Linked DNA regions of Homo sapiens: regions 2, 3 and 4 are each linked to region 1. Evidence: fine-mapped expression QTL. A gene starts in region 1. Each other region holds a variant in brackets. All regions are shown on one strand. Distances are from middle to middle. Region 1 holds the start of TMEM132C (transmembrane protein 132C). Region 2 has its middle 72 kb from the start of SLC15A4. Region 3 overlaps TMEM132C (transmembrane protein 132C). Region 4 overlaps TMEM132C (transmembrane protein 132C).

The links.
Region 2: its variant is fine-mapped to the expression of TMEM132C in whole blood (TOPMed, PIP 0.95).
Region 3: its variant is fine-mapped to the expression of TMEM132C in whole blood (TOPMed, PIP above 0.99).
Region 4: its variant is fine-mapped to the expression of TMEM132C in tibial nerve (GTEx, PIP above 0.99).

What each region holds. Positions count from the first base shown.
Region 1 is chr12:128,264,032-128,269,179 of GRCh38, forward strand. TMEM132C (transmembrane protein 132C) reads left to right here and starts at 3,139. Exons shown (of 9, transcript NM_001136103.3): 1 at 3,139-3,456. The coding sequence starts at 3,372. It overlaps LOC107987176 (a long non-coding RNA gene), which reads right to left and starts at 3,001. Exons shown (of 2, transcript XR_001749176.1): 1 at 2,540-3,001. RefSeq lists enhancers at 2,285-2,806, 3,342-4,180.
Region 2 is chr12:128,749,637-128,754,784 of GRCh38, forward strand. No RefSeq gene overlaps it. Among named protein-coding and RNA genes, the nearest start is that of SLC15A4, 72 kb to the right of the region's middle. RefSeq lists an enhancer at 4,230-5,148. The variant G/C (reference allele first, on the strand shown) is at 2,157.
Region 3 is chr12:128,700,442-128,705,589 of GRCh38, forward strand. It overlaps TMEM132C (transmembrane protein 132C), which reads left to right. Exons shown (of 9, transcript NM_001136103.3): 9 at 4,649-5,148. Among named protein-coding and RNA genes, the nearest start is that of SLC15A4, 120 kb to the right of the region's middle. The variant C/T (reference allele first, on the strand shown) is at 2,166.
Region 4 is chr12:128,295,393-128,300,540 of GRCh38, forward strand. All of the region lies in intron 1 of TMEM132C (transmembrane protein 132C), which reads left to right. Among named protein-coding and RNA genes, the nearest start is that of MIR3612, 3.9 kb to the left of the region's middle. The variant G/A (reference allele first, on the strand shown) is at 2,882.

The DNA of each region.
Region 1 (5,148 bases):
ACTCTCGTCTATTTTGTTCACTGGCAAAACCCCAAAATTTGGGCCTGACAAATAGTAAGCAAGTGACACCTATTTGTTAAATGAATGAATGAATGAATAAAATGTCCAAGGATAATAATAATACACCCCACGAGTGTGAAGAGGATTAAATCAGATAGTGCCTATATGTTTTAAGAACAATGACAGGACACAGAACTAAGCATAGACCTTTCTATCATTTTTCTCCCTTTTTTCCTTCTTCCTCATTTTTTAATCGCTAATAGTAAGCACCATAGTCAGGACTTGATACTCAGTTTGCGGGATGACCATAGCTGTTTCATGAGGCCAACATATAGCCTTTCTTTTCCATGTCCTCGGCAATATATACCCATATGTCCCGTCTACAGGTAGACAATGCAAGAAGCCTTTGAACTAAAATCACAAGTTCCACCCCTCATTTTATGCGATATTCACAATTTAACATTTAAGCATGAACAAAACAATCTGAAGTTGCCTCATTGACTTAGGAACCCTGAAACCCTGTGGAAGCAGCAGGTTTCCTCTTTCCAATCATTCTCCTCTCCCATAAATTATGTTAAGTGCTTCCATGTGCCCACAGTCCTTAAGGAATTCTGCAACAGCCTTTGAGGAGATTAGAAGCCTCTGATGTTCCTTATGAAATTCAGAAAACCATCTGGAAGTAATCTAAGTTAAGGAATTAATGATTTGGGGGTTAAATGATACATGACTTAAAAAAAATAAATACAGAAAACTTTATTAGCCCATGAACCTCAATTTTTGTGGATTTACCTATGAAAGAGAAATTGACTATATCATCTGTTTTATTTGTTTGTTCAGTTTTGTGTGCATGTTTGTTTGACTGCTCTTGAGAGGGACACGCAATAGATTAAATGGAGTCCTAAAGGAAGGTTTGCAGAGAAGCTTTCATTTGCTGGGTCTCCTGAAGGCTCTCACAGGGGATGCCCGGAGGCATCATAGTCTCAAGGGGCATCTGTGATTCAGGATCACCTGAAGACAGTGGCTGCCTTTGGGGTGCTGTGCAGTGAGCTTATCTGATTGAGAATCCTTTCCCCACTCCAACCCCATGTTGAATTAGTATTTATTTTGCTGTGGCTTGTTTGGTAGCCCCTGGTTTTGATTATTTGCATCACAGAGATGTAGTCCAGGACCTGACTTGTCTTTGCAGTAGGGACAGCAATGTTCTGTGCCAAAAGGAAAGAAATGATGTGGAAAGAAGGTACATTATGAGGCTGCATAGAACAGGGGAGTGGAGGGCACTTCTTTGGGTTTTTATTTTTTGTCCCTGTTATCCAATAGGGAGGAGAGAGGATAAGGCAGATTCCCATCCTCAGTTACAAACAATGGGACATGTGTATTTCTCCCTCATGCTGGGAACATTTAAATGAAAAAAAAATTATTCCCCGGTGATGTTCAGGCTCAAAGCACTGAGAATAAAACGTACCTTCCGTTTTAGGAGCCCAAATCTACTTTACAACTGCCCCCTGCCCCCAAGGTCAGGTCTACACTAGCTGAATGTACTGAAGAATTGGGCGATTATCAGCATAATCCACTTTAAAAATCAAGTCTCTGCTATCCAGGCCTATGAGAATCAAGCTTTTACCGTTCCCTTTGGGGCCTGGATAGTTTTCAAGCTGCCTTCTCCTCACATCATGTGAGTAGAGCCGGCCAAGAAAACCAGGGAGACATCTCCCCCCAGCCTGGCCCAGACTTCCGGGCCCCACCCCAGGAGAGAGCCTCCCACTCTGGCCAGTGCCCTGCAAAGCCTTCGCCCCACCCCGCCCCAATTTCTCCTTATGCCTGGCTCATTCCTTAGGGGCTGAGTTGGGAGATAAGACTTGGGGTTGCAGTTGCTGGGGATCATTCGTTTACATTTCTTTTCTTTCAATCAAGGACTTCTTTTTTTCTTTTGAAATTCTTTCCTGCACTGATGGTGAGAAAAGACCCCTCAGGCTTCCTTTTGATGTTGGACCGAGCCAGCCCACGGTGAGAGGGGATGCTGAGCCCGTGGTGAGGAGCTCAGGACAGGAGGGGACGTCCAGAGACCTCCGAACCCATGGCCCTTCATTCCCAGTCACAAGGGGGGAGTCGGGGTCCCGCCCTCAAACTGCTCAGACCACGCGTGGCAGAAAGAGCAGAGCATGAGCATCAGGAACCGCACAGGGAAGCCGCTGAGATCACCTGGGATCACCACCATGAGGGAGGCCAGCCCTGGAGAAATCAGAGGGAAAAGATAGAGAGAACGAAGTCGGGGGGGGGGGGGGGAGGGCGGATCTTCCTTGTCTGAGTCTGCAGAGAAATTGCCTATTGCAGGAGCAAGTCTAGAGAGGGGCTATTCTCCACCCACTGAAAAGATAATAAAACACATGCTATGGGCGGCGGGGAGATGATTGGGGAGTGGAAGCCCCACAGACATGCAGTGAAAAATGATCCTTTCTTCCCCTCTGCGTTCTCGTCCCCTTCCCAGAGACACCGCTGTGATCTCGTGCCTCGCCCCCTCCGCACACGCACAGGTGCACACCCGCATCTGTCTTGAGCCCGCACCCCGCCTTCACGCTCCGCTGCGCGCTGCTTTTCCGCGCTCAGTGATCCAGTTAGGAGCTCTCCCCGCAGCAGCTGCGCGGGACTTTGCATTCCAGATGTCCCCAGCCCTCCAGGCTAAAGCAGCGGCCACCTGAAGTTGAGGAATGGGGCGTGACGACCACCAGGTCCCGCAGTGACCACGGGAGGGTGGGGAGAAGGAGTCCAGCTCCGCCTTGAGCGTCGGGTCCCTGGGCAGGACCCTCCGGGCCACGGGCCGCTGTCCGTTGGGCACCCGGGCAGGAGTCTGCGAACGCTGAGTTTCTCTGGAAAGGCGCGGACCCCCGGAGGAGCCGTCCCAGCCGCCTGGGGAGACGCCCCCTCCTCTCCCGGTCTTCTTTCCCGGGCACACCCTCCCTAGCCCGGGCGGGGGGGTTCTCCATCTGCCGCCCCTCCCGGCGGGCAGGCGAACTCTCTCCTACCGCACCCTCAATCTGTCCGCGGTCGCGGGGCTCGGCGGGGGCGGGGCCCGGGCGGGGGCGGGGGCGGGGCCGGGGGCGGGGCGGGCCGGCGGCTGCGGAGGCTGCGGAGGCTGCGGGAGAAAAGTTGTCCCGGCCGGAGCGCGAGCAGCGGCGGAGCCGGAGCCGCCAGAGCCAGAGCCGGAGCTGCGGCGGCGTGGACCCGGCAGGGGCGGGCCTCGGACAGCAGAGACGCAGCGGGCCCGGCCGACCGGGCTGCGGGAGTGGCCCCGGGCATGGGGCGGCCGGCGGGGGCCGCGGGCGGGCGCTGCGCTTCGGGCTGGCGGCGGGCTGCGTGAGCGGCCGGGACGCAGGATGCGCTCCGAGGGTGCGGCCCCCGGGCCGGCGGCGCCGCTGTGCGGGGCGCTGAGCCTGCTGCTGGGCGCGCTGCTGGGCAAAGGTAAGGCCGGGGCGGGTGCCTGGCGCGCCGACGCATGCGAACTTCCCGGTTCCGGGGGAGCTCGGGGTGAGGGCAGCCGAAGCGAGGGGTGCGGCGGGGGCCTCGGCGGGGGCTCGGATCCCATCAACAGCGCCTCTGCGGGTGCCGAGCCGCCCCTAATCCAGAAGGGCGCTCCCAGCTGGGCGCCGGGATCCGGGCAAGTTAGGCTGGTCCCGAGTCCCGAATCTCCCACCCCGGACCCCCCAGACCCAGAGCTGCCCCGCGGATGAGGAGGGGGCGTGGCTGAGGGACACGGTGTTTGTTCCCCATCCCTGAGTTCCGTGCGGACCTGCCCCAGCCCCAGCACAGTCACCCTGTGGAACTGGCATCCAGGAGAGGTGCTCCGCTCTGTGCGCTCCTTCCTCCCGGCTGTGTGCTCCCTGTCCACAGCTCCCCATCCACAGCTTCGGCACTGTGGGGCTGGTGCTCCAGGAGGGAAGGCCCGGTTCTTTGCATCCCCTTTCCGCAACCGCTAGGGTCTCTGTGCGGGCCCTAGAGGAACGCTCACTCATCGCGCAGCTCACCAGGGACCCCAGCTTGGCAGAAACCAGGGGCTCTCTGCGGGTTCTCTCAAATGAGTCCTTTGCGGTGGGGGAGCGCGGATGGGGAGGTGGGTGCGTCCCTCGCGACGGGAACTACCTCACCAGCGGTCCTGTCCGGGGCTCCTTCACCTCAGTGTCCTCTTCTCTACAATGGGAGTGACGGCCCTGCTTTGGGTTGGAGGAATTTAAAGGAGTTAACGTATGGCGCCCGCAGGGCTCACGAAAGGTAGCCGTGTGGTTTTTCCGACCTTTTTTATTATGTGCGTGTGCGGCCGAGTGGCCGCGCGGATGCGGCGGCGGGAAGGGCGGGGAGAGGCGGTCTCCAGCCCCAGGAGCCGCGGGGCAGGCGGGGAGCAAGGCCTAGGCTCTGCCAGGGCAGCAGCTGCCCGAGTCCCGGGGCGCGCCCAGGGCGTAGAAAAAGGAGAGCGTCGCTTTCCTGCTCCCCGCGCCCTGGCGAAGGTCTCGGGTTCATTTGGTTAAACGGAGGTGCGCACATGGGTGCCCTGAGCCTTCGCGCGGCGCCGCGGGTCCAGTATCGGCCCCAGGCTCTGAGCAGAGAACACTCAAAGCCACCCTTCTCCCGCCTAATGCTCTGAGGCTGAGCTAGAAATGCGTTCAGAGAGACAAGTTGTCAATGGAGGTTTAAAAGTAGCGTTTGCTTTTCAAAAGTCATTCTGCACCGCCTGAAAATCCAGAAAAATCTACTTTCCTTGAGGCTGCGCTTTCCCAGATACACCAACCAGACAAGTTTGCTATGTTTTATATAAGTGTTCCTTTCTTCCAAGAGCTCCAGGTAGGGAGGAGGGTGGGGTGAGAGAGGGGGGGGAAGAAGGAGTGAGAGAAGAGGGAAAGAGAGGGTGGGGCGAGAGAGGGGGGAAAGGGGGTGAGAGACGAGGGAAAGGGGGGGCAAGTCGGGGGTGGAGGAGTAGGAGAGGGGGGCACTTTTCTATTTTATTTGAAAGAGTCAACAGTCACGATCTGGTGCCTGAATTCTGCTGTTAATTAGCTCTAGGTTCCAGCGTTTCTAGGATTCAGTTTTCCTAGATGCAAAGTGGCCATTGAAGAATTCCCTTCCCAACCTACCTCCCAGCAGTTTTTTGTTGATAAAATG
Region 2 (5,148 bases), 490 kb after region 1:
GGGTTGTAAGTAACATGAATTGGAATTATGTGAATACAAAAAGAAAGTTGAGAGGATCAATTATCAGCAAAACTTTTTAAAATATAATCCCTTAAAGTCAAAAATGTATCAGGAGTCACATAAATTTAAAGCTGTCAAATAAAGTCCATTGAGACCTGCCTGCTGTCTACTGACACATTTTGGTACCGTATTTTACCAGGTGGACAAAATTAGCCCCCAACAGTTGTCAGGAAAGTCTTGAATTAAATGTTGAAGTACACCCAGGTATTGGAAATGCATGTTTCCCCAAAGAGTAATTATGTTCAATTCTAACACAAATTCTTAAATACAGAAATTCTAGTGGCTGTTAAACATTTGACAAGATTTTCAATTGCGCTAAGGATGGGAGGGAAAAAATTATGACAAATAATTTGGGGCTTCTAGGGTTACCAAAGATTAAAACATGGCCAGGCGTGGTGGTTCATGCCTGTAATCCCAGCACATTAGGAGGCTGAAGCAGGAAGATGTCTTGAGGCGAGGAGTTCAAGACCAGCCTGGGCAACATAGTGAGACACCATCTCCACTTATATAAATATAAAAAATTAAAATGTAAAACATGATAATATTCCAGGCATATGCTGGACACTGTGGTCCTGTGAATGGATGTGACCAGTTTGGAGGGCAATTTAGAAATAGCCCCAAATGTCAAAGGAAAACCTCAGCTCGCAATTCTACTCTAACAATATGAAATGGTATTTGAACACATGTAGTCTTCCCAACCAGGGGTGCTCACGTGAATCACGGAACATAGAAAGTGGCTTGAGAGACTATTTTATCAATTCTCTCGAGGGTGGTTACATAACTAACACCTTTCTAGACCCCTGGGAGAAAAGTTCATTCCTTACATACAATGGATGGCTCAGGGCAAGAGAGTGTAATTCTCTTGGGAACACTGGTTGAGAAAACTGTAGATGTCTAGGAATTCATTGTCACCTTGTTTGTGATGCTGAAAAATGGGAAATGACTGATGTAAATGCTTAGCCAAAGGGATAAAGACAGAATGCTACATTCATATAATGGATTAGGAAGCAGCTGGTGACTATGTGAGTATATATGGATATATACTGATCCATTAATACTTCCATGATAAGTCGATAAATTTAAAAGAAAGTTATACCCACTAATATGACTTTATTTGAAAAGACATATCAGCGGGGTGGCTCTCACCTGTAATCCCAGCACTTTTGGATGCCAAGGCAAGAGGATCGCTTGAGCCCAGGAGTTTGAGACCAGCCTGGGCAAGATGGTAAGACCATCTCTATAATTAATAAATTAATTAAAAGATCCCAGCAAGTGTTGGTGAGAATCTGGAGAAATTGGGATGCTCACGCACAGCTTAATGGAAACGTAACATGCAGTTTGTTGCTGCTGTGGAAAACAGCCCAGCGGTTCCTCAAAAGTTTTCCATATGGCCCAGCAGTTTCACTCCTAGGTATAAACCCAACGGAAATGAAAATATATATCCACATAAAAGCCTGTACACGAAAGTTCACAGCAGCATTACTGACAATAGCCAAAGAGTGAAAACAACGCAAGTGCCCTTCAACTGATGAATGGATCAGCAAAAAGTGGGGTATCCATACAACAGAACATGACTCAGCCATAAAAACAAATGAAGCACTGGTACATGCCACAATGTGGATGAGCCTCGAAGACGTGAGATATGGGATGCCAGACACAAAAGGCTGCGTAGTTTACAATTCCATTCATATAAAATATAAAGAATATGCAAATCCAGGAGATTAGCGCTTGCCAGGGGCTGGGAGAGGGGAAATGGGGAAGGGGTAATGGGCAAGGGGTTTCCTTCTAGGGTGATGAAATGTTCGTTGATTGTGATGACTGTATAGCTTTGTGAATATGCTTAAAACCATTGAATTGTATACTTTAAATGGGTAAAATGTGTGATATATAAATTATATCTCAATAAAGCTGTTGCCAAAAAAAAAAAAAAAAGAAAGAAAGTTATGGGTGAAACAGGATTTGATTTTTTTTTTCTTTTTTGAGACAGGGACTCACTCTGTCACTCAGGCTGGAGTACAGTGGCATGATCACAGCTCACTGCAGCCTCAAACTCCCAGGATCAAGCAATTCTCCCACCTTAGCCTCCCAAGTAGCTG[G/C]GACTGCAAGTGCATGCCACCACGCCAGCTAATTTATTTATCTTTTGTGAAGATGGGGTCTTGCTATGTTGCCCAGGCTGGTCTCGAATGCCTCAGCCTCCCAGAACACTGGGACTACAGGGATTATAGTGAGCCACTGTGCCACGTCCTGTATTTGCCTTTTAAAAAATCCAAGGGTGGAGGTTTAGCAGGAAGGGTTTAGGGTTGGCTCTATGATAAAAACTGCTGAAACTGTGTTCTTAAGTGAGGAACACAGGAGAGCTCATGATAGACTTCTCTCTACCTTTGTATCTAACAATTTCCAAAACAGAAAAATTTTTTAAGTGAGATATGGCAGATAAAAGTAGCTCGGCAGAACACTGACAAGAGTTAAAGCTCAGTGGGTGAACATCATCATACTCTTCTCTCTACTTTTGTGTAGGTGTAAAAAATTTAGTTATACCAAGATTTTTTTCAAGTTAGATGAATAACAATATAAAGATTATAATCCCATTTGAGTTAAAACAATAATGCATTTTATACACACACTGATGTATATGTGCCAGGAAGATGACAAGCAACTCTCAGTGGCTGTCTCTTGGTGGGCTGCGGTGAGGAATGGCTTTGCTTCTACTTGATATATATATATTTTTAATGGTTTGTGTTTTTACAGCAAGCAGGTATTGTATGCAAAGAAAACATGGAAATAGGTATTTTTTTTAAATTCCACCAATTCTTCCTCATCTCAGTGTCCTCAGCTAGGCCACAGGAGTCCCACCCACCAGGCAAAGCTACTGGGAGGTTTAAGGCATTCACACCTCTGGGCCAGCCCCGGAGACACTTAGCTAAGAGACCACACTACAATTCGAATTCCCTTCTCCTTCCTTCACAGAGTCCTTAATGGCTGGCTATGATTTCAACGCTGGTGAATTACCGGCTATTGGCCCATGTATCTTGCCACCATTTTTCTTCGTTGTGATATATTCTTTTGGCCCTAGGCCTGAAAATGCTTCTTATAGGTGTGCACCACGTGCATCCATTACAGAATGGCTTGGCGAGTCACAGCGTGGGGGATGTGTCAGCTCTGGAGCACCGAATGGTTCTCCAGAGGTCTGCAAATTATTACTCTCCCCAACGTGTTTGCCCTTCTCCAAGTGAACACCCCTGAGTAGACAGGCTCTGACCTCCAAAGGTTTGCTAGACATGCTAGAAACAACTGAGAACGTGCCACGGGCTGTCACGAAGCCCAGGGCCTCAGCGTTAGTTTGGATAGGACTACCCCTTGCAACCAGGGTCTCATCCAGGTGATTTGAGGCAGGGTCTCTCTCTCTTCCCCCATTACCCAGACAAAATGTTGCCAATAAAGACGTTTCTAGTCACGTGGAGGACAGACACCACCACAGCATAAAAGGATTACAGGCTGCACCCTCCACTGCCAAACAGAGTTTTGAAAATGAAGGACATTTTTGTGAAAAGAAAGACTTTGTCAAGGCTTATGGCAAAACAAGCTTAAATAACCCTGTAATTCATTCCCACCCAGGACCCTGGAATTAAAGTAAATGCACGGGTAGTCAGTAGGGAGTGAGGCCTCCCCCGTCCCTGTTAACACACATCGAGAGGGAATGGAGCTGGGGAAACCTTTCCCACCTAAAGCAAAACCAGTTTCTTTACCAAGTAAGAAAACTTCCTTTGTCTTCCATTGTCAATTTTGTCAATTTTGCCAGAAGCAAAAAGAAGAATTTTTTTGTTGTTGGTATGCAACAGCAAAAAGAACATTGCTTTGCAAAAGCCTGGAATCAAAATATGTGAAGCTGGGGAAAGAAGCAGTTGTCCCCGTGGCTTCATGAAAGTGCAGAGAGCTGGTGGAGCTGGACTGAGCTGGATTTGAGTCCCTGGCCTGCCCCCTGTGGCAACGAGACATGCCCTGGCCCAGACAAGCTTTTAACTCAGTGCCTGTTCAGGTTCTTTGGTCATTCGACATTGTTTTTAATAGGAGGAGGGAAACAAACTGATTTTCCTATTCATTCATTCATTCATCCACCCATTCATTCATTCGAGAAGCATTCTATGTGCAAAGTTCAGTTCTAGGCAAGGTAGAAGCTGCAATTAATAAAACAAGCAAACTCCTGAAGTCATGGATCTTCAATTTTACTAGAGAAAGATAGAGAATAAGGAAGCAAATAAATAACTGATACTACCCATAAAAAGTTATGAGGCTATGCTGCAATGTGGAAGAAATTTGAAAGCATTACACTAAGTGAAAGAAGCTAGTCGCCAAAAAAAAAAAAAAAAAAACCCACATATTGAATGACACCATTTATATGAACCGCCAAAGACATGCAAATCCAGAGAGACAGAAAGTAGATTCATGGTTTTCAGGGACTGGGAAGGGAGAAACAGGGAGTGGCTGTTCATAGGCACTGAGCTTCCTTCTTGGGTGATGAAAATGGTTCTAAAATTGATGAATTGGTGAAATAGATGAGCTGTGATGTCTGAGTTATGTCTGGATGAAGCTGTTGAGCAAGAGTTAGGATGGTAGCTGTGTAAGTTATCACTGGGTCACCTGCTGTCCCAAGGTGTAGTGACTCGGCAACACATGCTCATTATTGATCCTGAGAATATGGGTCAGTTGGGTGGCTCGGTGGATCTTGGCTGGTTGCTCACAGTCCAGTCATCTGGAGAGATGGCTGAGTAACCCAGGATGGGCTCACTCACATGCCTGCTGGGTGACTTGCTGTCTGCTGGGGCAAATGGGGTTACTAGGTCCATGTGTCATTGTCCCCAGGCCAGTCTGGGCTTGTTCATATGACAACCCCCAGAGTCTGAGAAATGTCAGCGGTGTGTAAGGTTTCTGGAGGCCTCAGAACAGACACAGCATCACTTCTGCCCCCTCCTCTAGGACAAAGCAAGTCACAAGGCCAGCTCTGAGACAAGAGGTGTAGATTATTTTTCAACACCTTTATTAAGATGTTGTATTAGTCCTTTCTCACACTGCTCTAAGGGCATACCTGAG
Region 3 (5,148 bases), 440 kb after region 1:
AGGCTTTAATTCCGATTGTCTGCTGTTCAGGGGCTTTTTTATGTTAACTTCTTTCCCCATCTAGTTTGTGAAGAAAAATTATTCAAGAGGAAATGTCAGCCACGATGAACTTGCACACTGTTCAGTCTTTTATCTCACCCCTTAGAGTGTAGAAGGCTGGCACCTTGTTCATGATATTTTCAACTTTGAAATAGAAAATCTGAATGGTTTTTACACCTACAAATAGAGGGTAGTAGCCTGCATGTTCTCCCAAGCCTTGTTTGCTCTAAAGAAAGTAGGATCGAAAAATGAAAGGAGAAATCACTTGGTATTTGTGCATGAGGTTGAGGCATTAGAAGGACTTATTGGATTGTGTGATTCATCAGCTGATATGGACAGAGGAGACGAGGGTGAGCACCAACATCGCTGAGCCATCTCTTCTGTCTTAGTTTTGGTCTGCTCAGAAGCTGAGCCTGAGACAAGGATTCAGGTGCAAGTAGTTTATTCAGGTGGTGAAGACAATACCAGTAGAGAAGTCGGGGGTGATGGAAGGAAGAGAAATGCAACCAGTAGAGTGTATTACCAACTCAGCCGCCGCCAAGGGCAGCCGGAGCTCCTGTCTGCTGGGCGACTGTATGCCGGTCTAGAAAGGCCAGAAGAGTTACTGCACTTGAGGGGCAAGGGATCTGGGATAAATATAACAACTTCCATGAGTCCTTCATTGAGGGCTGCCCACAGCATTTATTAACTCCTTGGCACATCTTGCTGTAGGCACAACCACATGGATTCCAGAAGCCAGAGAGTGACCTTGGGCAAAAAATAAGTTAAAAAAAAAAAAAAGCAAAGTTGATCATTGAAAGTTGAGCTAGCAGGAGCTGAATGGGCAGCCACCCAAAGAGAACTCCACACCCTCCTAAAACTTCCTACACAGGCTCACCCCTCAGAGCCAGCTGGTGTTGGCCAGGGCTTACCAACACAAGTGATATGACCCAATCCAACTCAACCTGCCTTCACACACAGCAGAATGTATCAGTTCATGTCCAAGCATTTGGATCTTCAGCTACAGCTACATGTAGATGCTCAAACGATGTCATCAGAATTCTTTTTTTAATTGCTAGCATTCTTCCTTGGTCCTGCGGGATGTAGAGTCATCATTGCTGTGAACACTGGCTGCTCCCAGGCTACTCCAATTTTTCCTTCTGGAATTCCTACCAAACAAGCGTTGGACATTCTCATTCTCTCCTTTATGTCTGTTCACCTGCCCTTCACAGTTTTATTTCTTGATATGCCTGTGGTTCTATTTGGGGTAACGTGGGTGGCTTTGTCTCCCACTGCAGTAATTCTCTCCTTGAACATGTCTCATCTGCTGTTCGAACCACCCATTGAGTCACTGATTTCAGTGACTGTGTTTTTCATTTCTAGAAATTCTACGTGGCTCTTTGCACCCCTTCCTGCTCTGCTTCCATTCGCTTCTTCTTCTTTTTTTTTTTTTTTTTTGAGACAGAGTCTTGCTCTGTCACCCCAGCTGGAGTGCAGTGGTGTGATCTTGGCTCACTGCAACCTCTTCCTCCCAGGTTCAAGCAATTCTCCTGCCTCAGCCTCCTGAGTAGCTAGGACTACAGGCACCCACCACCATGCTCTGCTAATTTTTGTATTTTTTGTAGAGATGGGGTTTCCTCATGTTGGCCAGGCTGGTCTTGAACTCCTGACCTCAGGTGATCCGCCCACCTCGGCCTCCCAAAGTGCTGGGATTACAGGCATAAGCCACCACATCTGGCCCCCATTTGCTGTTATTGAGACAATTTCAACTCCTTTTAATGTCTCTTTAATTTTTTAATTAAATTTTTAATTTCTTTTTAATTTTATTTCATAGACTATTTTTGTTGGTTCGTTTTATGTTATTTCATAAATAACATTTATTATGAAATTTATTTATTATGAAATGTATTATTATGAAATGTTATTATTTCATAAATAACATTATTTATTGTTTTATTTCATAGACTGTTGTTTTTTGTTGGTTTCCTTTAAGTTATAGCCTTTGGAGTCTTCTATGATCTCACATATCAGTCTGCTCACCTTCCTGTGTAAATGTTTAACACAACCACTCCCGGTGCAGCCTTGCCACCTACAGGTTGTAACTTTTCTTTCTTTGTATCATGAGCACCTCTTGAGCCCTGGTTGCT[C/T]GGCTTTGTTTTGTTCTGAAGGAGGTTGTATTTGCATTTGCACAGGTCCAACTTCAAGTGAGTTTCTTTTCTCCCAATTCGCATACCACAGAGGTAGTTATCCCACCCAAGTGTGGGCTTTTGGTTTTGAGTGGCGACATCTCCATCCAGTGCTCAGAGCGCACACAAGCTTTGCTGCTGTATCTCTGGCTCAGCAGGTAGGATTTTCCCATGCCCCGTCCATGGAGTGGGTGCTGCTACCTCCCTGGGCTGCAATGACAGTGTCCGGGATGGATGGGGACAAAGGTCCAGGAAGGCCACGAGGTCAGACCTGGTTTGCTGTGAAAAAGGCAGGGAGGAAAGGAGGCAGCTACTTGACTTTTTCAGCAGAGGGTGAGTCATCATGGTCTTTGTGGGGCTGATAAAATGGGCTCTGGCAGTGGTTGTTCTAGGGGGTCCCTAGCACAGTGGTCAAGAGCTCAGCTCTAAAGCCACAGCAGTTCCAGCCCTGATCCTGCCTCTTCCTAACGATATGACTGGACATATTTCTTTTTTTTATTTTTTTAACTTTTATTTTCACTTCAGGGGTACCTGTGCAGGTTTGTCATGTAGCTACACTTGTGTCATGGGGGTTGGTTGTACAGATTATTTCATGACCCAGGTATTAAGCCTAGTACCCATTAGTTATTATTCTTGATCCTCTCCCTGGTCCCACCCTCCACCCTCCAATAGGCCCCAGTGTGTGCTGTTCCCCTCTATCTGTCCATGTGTTCTCATCATTTAGCTCCCACTTAGAAGTGAGAACATGTAGTGTTGGGTTTTCTGTTTCTGTGTCAGTTTGCTAAGAATAATGGCCTCTAGCTCCATCTGGTCCCTGCAAAGGATGGGATCTTGTTCTTTTTATGGCTGCATAGTATTCCACGGTGTGTGTGTACCACATTTTCTTTATCCAGTTTATCATTAATGGTCTGGAGAGTTTTTCCTAGATGAATGGAGGAGGCTGAAATATGCAATTCTAAGCACAAAGTGGAGAGCCTGTATCCACTGGGCACTTGCTGTGGATCAGGTGCCATTTAGGTTGACTTTGTGTCTTCGCTATTGTGACTCCATGTCTTTGCTATTGTGAATAGTGCTGCGATGAACATATGCGTGCATGTGAGCACAGTTCTTAACCTCTCTTTGGGCAGGAAGCATAACCCAACCTACTTTGTGGAAGAGGAGAAAATGCGTTCTGTAATAACTGCGAACAACACCTGACCCACAGCGAGTGCCCAGTGGATATGGACTGTCTGTTTTATGATTAGGATTGCACATTTCACCCTCCTCTATTCATGGGAGTTCCCACTCTTGGAAGCAGAATAGAAGTACCCATGGCTAAGTCAAGAATAAGGCCTTCTGTGGGATTATGTTTGCTGTGGGCACACAAAGGGGAGAGGATGTCATTATTGCCCTGGGGAGGAGGCGAGACAGCAGGAAACCTTGTGCTCATGAGAATCTGCCAGTCACATAGGCATGGGTGTGAGTGGCATTTCTAGGCCAGTAGCTTCCCCTTTTTTTGGAATATTATTCAGCCATAAAAAGAATGAAATATTGCCATTTGCAGCAACATGGATGATCCTGGAAGACATTACTTTGAGTAAAATAAGCCAGGCACATAAAGTCAATTTTTTTTTACCAGTCCCCACAATGGCAAATAGTTTTTACATAGCTGTTGGGTCACTGACAGAAGTATAGTGAGTCTGCAAAATAAACTCAGCCCCTTCACACTGGCCCTTTGCTTCCTCTTTCACTCTGCTACCCATGCAGAGCAAGGGCAGCACAATTGAACCGGGCCCACCAGCCAATGCCATGTACTGTGTCCCACACATCACTGCCGCCCAACTACAGCCAAGCAAAGCATCTGCAATGGCTCAACAGGGTCAACCTTAAAGGGCAAAATGCTCTTGTTTTCTTGTTTCTCAGGCAAAGCTTAATTCACTGGGGGCAGTGCAGGGAGAAGAGGGGAGGTTCCTTTCTGATGTCATTGGTTCTGACAGTGTTTCCTGCCCATCAACCTTTGTCATCAGGCTGGATACAGACAACAGCTGTATCCATTCATCATACTTAGGCCACTAATCACAGAGTGTGTGACAAAATGACCAGGGCCTGCCCTAGAAGCCAGTCATTGTCTGTGAACATGCACCGGCTGACTGATTCAAGCAATACCTGTGTGGATAAAGCCACCCGGAGCCTCATCTCACTTAGGGATTTTTGTTTTGCCATTTGTTTGTTCTGGGTAAGGATTATGAGGGCACTGTTAGTCACATCCCCATTTGTTCTTGTTTAAATTAAGGTGGTTTCTCTGCCCCTGATAGAAAACCTGTATGATTTCTCCCCAGATGCATGAGCTACTGGGTCTGGATTTGAGGTCCTGCTCCCTGTTTCATTGGGCGTCCTCCTAGGAGGGGGTTTCTAAGGGAAAAGGCATCCCCCAGGTGGTCTTCTAACTGCCTGTGTCCCTGCAGGAGGCTGTATTCAGCACGTGGCTGCAGTTCAGTGATGGCTCTGTGACGCCCCTGGACATCTACGACACCAAGGACTTCTCCCTGGCAGCCACCTCCCAGGACGAGGCTGTCGTGTCAGTCCCCCAGCCCCGCTCTCCCAGGTGGCCCGTTGTGGTGGCCGAAGGGGAAGGCCAGGGCCCACTGATCCGAGTGGACATGACGATCGCCGAGGCCTGCCAGAAATCTAAACGCAAGAGCATCCTGGCTGTGGGCGTCGGCAACGTCAGGGTCAAGTTCGGACAGAACGATGCTGACTCCAGCCCCGGCGGGGACTATGAGGAAGATGAGATCAAGAACCACGCCAGCGACCGCCGGCAGAAGGGCCAGCACCATGAGCGCACAGGCCAAGATGGGCACCTCTATGGCAGCTCTCCCGTGGAGCGTGAGGAAGGGGCTCTCCGAAGAGCCACTACCACGGCCAGGTCCCTGCTGGACAACAAAGTGGTGAAGAACAGTCGGGC
Region 4 (5,148 bases), 31 kb after region 1:
ATTCCCTCTCAGCCTCAGACCTACTTGAGGGGAAGGCAGTTCCATCCCCATTTTACAGATGAGAAAACTGAGACGTGTAGGGTCACATGGAAAATAAATAATGACCGCCTTGAAACTGTGATGTCCAGGGCGTCCTGTCTGTAACAGCCTGCTACCTTCCACCCCCTCCCCTGGGTATGCTTTCATTCCTTACCCGACTTCTTAGACTTGCCCTCCAATGTTACTGATGTGCCTTTTAAGTCCTTCAAAAAAAAAAAAAAAAAGAAAGAAAAAAGGGTGGGGTACAACCTGAAGAAAGAAGAAAAATAAGAGCCCCACATAAAATTCTGCTCAGTGATCAGAGACCAGTCCAGTCATAGATTTCAGTTTTAAGCACCAATTAAAAAAAAAAAACCTTAAAAATTTCTCCTATTTCCTTCTTGATCCTTGTAGAATATTGTACTTTTCAGACCATATTTAGTTGTACATTCCTCTGTCTTTCTCTCTGCTCTGTCATTTCTTGAAGACATGGGCCTTTCCTTATTACCTTCCATATCTTCAGGTTGTAATGGGATATTCAACACATAATAAGCAGTGAAATGCATCTTGCAAGAATGAGTGAACATTGGTTTTCTCTGTACCTCCCCTTGCCTCCCTTTCTTCCTAGTGTCCAAGTCCCTTTGTCTCTCTTTGTCCCCTATATTTACTGAAGTAGCACCCTTGTTTTGAGAGTATTTGTTGATTTGAGATGCAAAGCTTTTGGCCTGATGCCTGAACCCAGGAGACAGGACTCAGGGCCTATCCAGCATTGAGACCTGAGTTTCCCAATCATTGGAGGTTCACGTTTTATAATTAGGATGCTTTGGGCTGCAAGTAATAACAACACGAATACAGTCTGCCTTAAATGGTAAGGAAACATATTATCTTAAAAAGCAACTCCAGAAGTAGGGTGGTTTCCAGGTTAATTGATGCAGTGGCTTATTGCTCCCCTTAATGATCAAAGTCTTTCTGTCTCTCTAATGACATCCTGGCTTCACCCCAAGACTGGTTGTTCTCATGGTCACAGGAGAGATGACACTGGTATTTAGGGTACACAGTTTATATGTTTATGGCTAGAAGGAGTGGCCAGCTTTACAGAGGCTTCTCTCAAAAACAAAGGAGGGCCAGCCCAGCCATTAATTTCCTCTCTGTCTTTCCTCTCTGTCTTTCTGGTCATATTTAGAGCACAGAGCCATTCTGTAGCCAGTCACTAGAAAGGGAGCTGGATTCGCCTTAAAGGGATAGATAGAACAACACTTGGACCTGAGAATGGAAGTTGTCCTCCGTCAGGTTCATGACTGTGAGTGTCATGAGGAAGAAGATGGGGCAATAAAGTCAAGAGTAGGCAAGAAATTCATGTTTTCCTTTAAATTGATGCATTTCTTTAATTTAGCAAAACTATTTTTAAAACATCAGGGTTTGATATACTATAAGTGTTTTCTTCTAACCAGCATTAAAATAAATATATGATAATATAAATAAAAGATATTTATCTCTGTACCATTTTGGGAATTGCTAGATTTAGACTAGACTTCCCAAACTGCATATTTCACCAAAACACACCCCGTGATCTTTGGACAAAATAAATCCCAGGTTTTTATGGATGTAGGAAATACAGCTGTAATTCCGTCAAATGGTCTTTTTTTTTTCTTAATTGCAAAGTGCATATGTAAGTTTTCCCCTTTTTAAACTTTCATGATTCAATAGAAAGCAGCAAGGGTCTGTTTTTAGGGGCTGGACTGGCCATCTTTTCAGTTGGTGCTGGCTTGAAATGAAGAGCAACAAATAGAATAAATAACTGCAGTGAAGGGGATAATATGGTATTGACTGCTTGGCTCTGGTTAATTTTCTGTGCTGTGAACACCATGCAGAAGTTGGGCTGGACGTGATGGCCTCCTGCCGATAGGAGGCCAGTGGCTGTGAATATTGTACGTTTGTAAACTCAGAAGGGGTTTAGTGTGCAGCCAGATTCATTTAAAGTCATAAATGGATTATTGGATTACTCCTTGGTCATGCGTCTAAGTAATTTACGGGTGCTATCATGGCTCCGGGTCTCTAATAAGCTTCGCCCTCCTTGGGATAGTGACTGTCTTGCCTTAACTGATGTTGAATCTTTCCCACTTAGTCTCTCCTGCTTAGGGTTAACATTTAACCAAGGCCTGCAAAAGCTGGCTTTGAAGGCACTCGACTTGAACTGAGAAGGTCTGACTTTAATTCTGACCCTTCACCCCCAAATCTTTTCAGAGAGTGTAGCAGTGTCTCCTGGTGGGCACAGTTCTTTTCCTTTTTCCAGGATTTGGTATCTCTTCTGAACTTTTTCCTTCTGACACCCACATGATTTTAAGCAAAAACTCTATAATTTTTCAAAAAAAAGTTAAAACCCAATCATTTACCTCCTTAGAGACCCCAAGCACTGAAAATAAATTATGGGGCCCTGCTCAACCTGTCTACAATTCACAATTAAAATAGTACTTAGCCATAAAGCAAATGGAAGAAAACCCAACAAAATATTTGTTTTCTCATGATGATGACTTCAATATCAAATGATTTACAAAAATATTCCCTCCTTCATGTTAGTTTCCCTGTTTTGCTTTTGTTTGGTGTGACAGCCTGTGGGGTAATCTCACCCCGCCTTTAGCTATGAATGTAGCTTTAAAGGTTACAAAGCATTTTCCTCTTTTTATCCCATTTTATCTCCTCTCCTTCTGCCCAGTACAGGTTCAGGATGTTGCCAGAGAGCACCTGTGAGAATGCACATCTAATCATGTTATTCCCTTGCTTAAGACCCCAGTGCGGCTCCCATTGTTCCAGAAACTAACCCATGACCCTCTGTGGTGGAGCTCCCCAGGCTCTCCAGCCTCAG[G/A]TTCTCCCGCCCTCTCCTCCCCCGGGCCATGTGCATTGTGTTTTGTTGAATGTGTTCCTTCCGAAAGGGCAACTGGTACAGCGCAAAATGTTCTTCCTACAGGGCAATTGTTATGTTGATTTTTTTGTCTGTTTATTTGTTTTAACTTTTTTTTTTAAATAGAGACTCACAGGAAGTTGCATAAAATAGTACAGAGAGCCCCAAGTCCCCTTCACCCAGCTCTCCCTGGTGATTGCATCTCACGTAACTACGGTACGTACGACTCACAGCCAGGAAACCAGCATCGGCAGGTGCCTGCATAATTCTTTGCCATTGCATCCTGTGGGTAACTGCCTGCAGCCACTGCTCTGAAGACACTAAACTGTGCCATCAGAGCCTCCCTCCTGCTACCTCTGTATCCTCACAGGAAGACATTTCTTTGGGGGAAGAAAACGAACTTTGCAGATGAGGCTGGAGTTGTCTTTGATCCACATCTACTCATGCTGAGGACCTCAGCTGCCTTCTTTGGGGGAATGTTTTTCCCCAGTGGGGAGTGGACCAAGGTCGCTGGTAGAGCACCTTGTACCTGTCCTGCACAGCATTTCCCTGGATTGCAGATATGTGCTCATACATGTTGTCCCCATTTAACTTGAAGTTCCATGAAAACAGGGGTGTTTTTTCTCTTTTATTTGGTTGTATGTACTATCATTTCCCCAGTGTGGTATTGGATTTTTCATACAGTGTTGGTATTTAACGCTGAGAGCAACAGCACATGTGTGTGGGATGAATGTGATAACTTCCTCACGGTGGCTTACGGTAGGATTAGTATGAAAATCCATGTATCCTGACCCTGAGCCCTGTGTTCAACCTTTACCTTTTAACCATCACTCTGGAGCTTGGAAGGTGATAAATTTTCTGAAAACTCAAAATTGTACTAGAGATATTGGTCATGAGACTCACTGTCCCAGGGGCTCTGTGCTGCCTTGGAGCCCTAATTGTTAGGCAGCCATGTTTCATACCATGCAATTTCCATCTTCTACACTGAATCCATGTTTGAGTCAACCACAAGAAACACCTGATCCCTGGGTGGTTAATGTATACCTGGATGCCTGGTTTTGAAAAGATGAGCTGGTCTCATTAGATGAGCTGGTCCATGAGATTTTGAGTTAAGCAATGTACACGGAATTCACCAGCTATTGATGGCATGGCTACTGAGATGCTCTTAGAAAGACAGAGCTGATGGTGCCAGTTCAGAGGACCCAGATGAGAACCAGAGACAAGCGAGACAGTAACACACAGAGTAAAACAGAGATGTGAGAGAATAGATGTTGTCTTCCTCTCAAGCAATGGGAGAAAATCAAATTTGAAATTTGAAAACAATTCCAGATTGTTTTTCGTATAGAGAGAACTTTGGTAGAAGGTTGGAGAGAATCAGGCAAGGGTGTATAGCTTGGTCACCTTAAGGTAAAGGTTTGTGAAAATCCTGCTGCCGAGGGTCTCTAAAGCTGCATGCAGCCCAGGTTCTTCCTTTCCTCCAGGTCTTCACTCTATGAAATGTGGTCCCTACCTCTCACCCCTACACGTGATTGCAGGTGGGTTCACATAACTCTAAGATGTTAGCACTGAGCTGGGTAGGCACATCCCACATCCCACACCAGGAAGAGACCAGGAGTTAGGTGCCAGTGGAACCGGGGCAGGATGCCCACATTTAAATAATTCCGTCAGTGTAGTCTAGACACAGTCGGCCAGTGTTCAATACTAGACTAGACACAATAAGAAATACAAAACTCAAGACAGGTAAGAGCAAGAGTAAACATGTTTGGGCAAATCCATGATCAAAGCAGGTGGTGCTTTAAGGAGATAGCCATAAGCGTAAGCCAAAGTCTGCGGGGTGGCTCCAGTGACTTTTTGTTCCCTGGGATTGGGCTTCTTTTGAAGTCCTCTAAGCAGTTTTTTACTGGCTTTAAAAGAGAAACCGCTGTGATGAAAGACTGGGAGAAGTCCTCTGTTCTTCCTCCTGGGGTTATTGCTGGCAACAGGAAGGTGGAAGAGCTTACAGAGTGTTGGCTCAGGTTCCAGCCTCATGAACTTATCTCCTTGAGCCTGGGACCTTCCTGAAAAGCAGAGTTCATGGTTTTTCTCATTTGAAGGAGGCATTATGATGGGAGAGAGAAAGGGGTCTCTTCCGTGTGTCCTTGTGCTTCCTGCATTTTTTCTTCTGTGAAGAAAGTTTTTCACAGCATAGTTGTGGTGGGCACTCTTGAGTGTGTTTGCCTGAGTTACAGTGA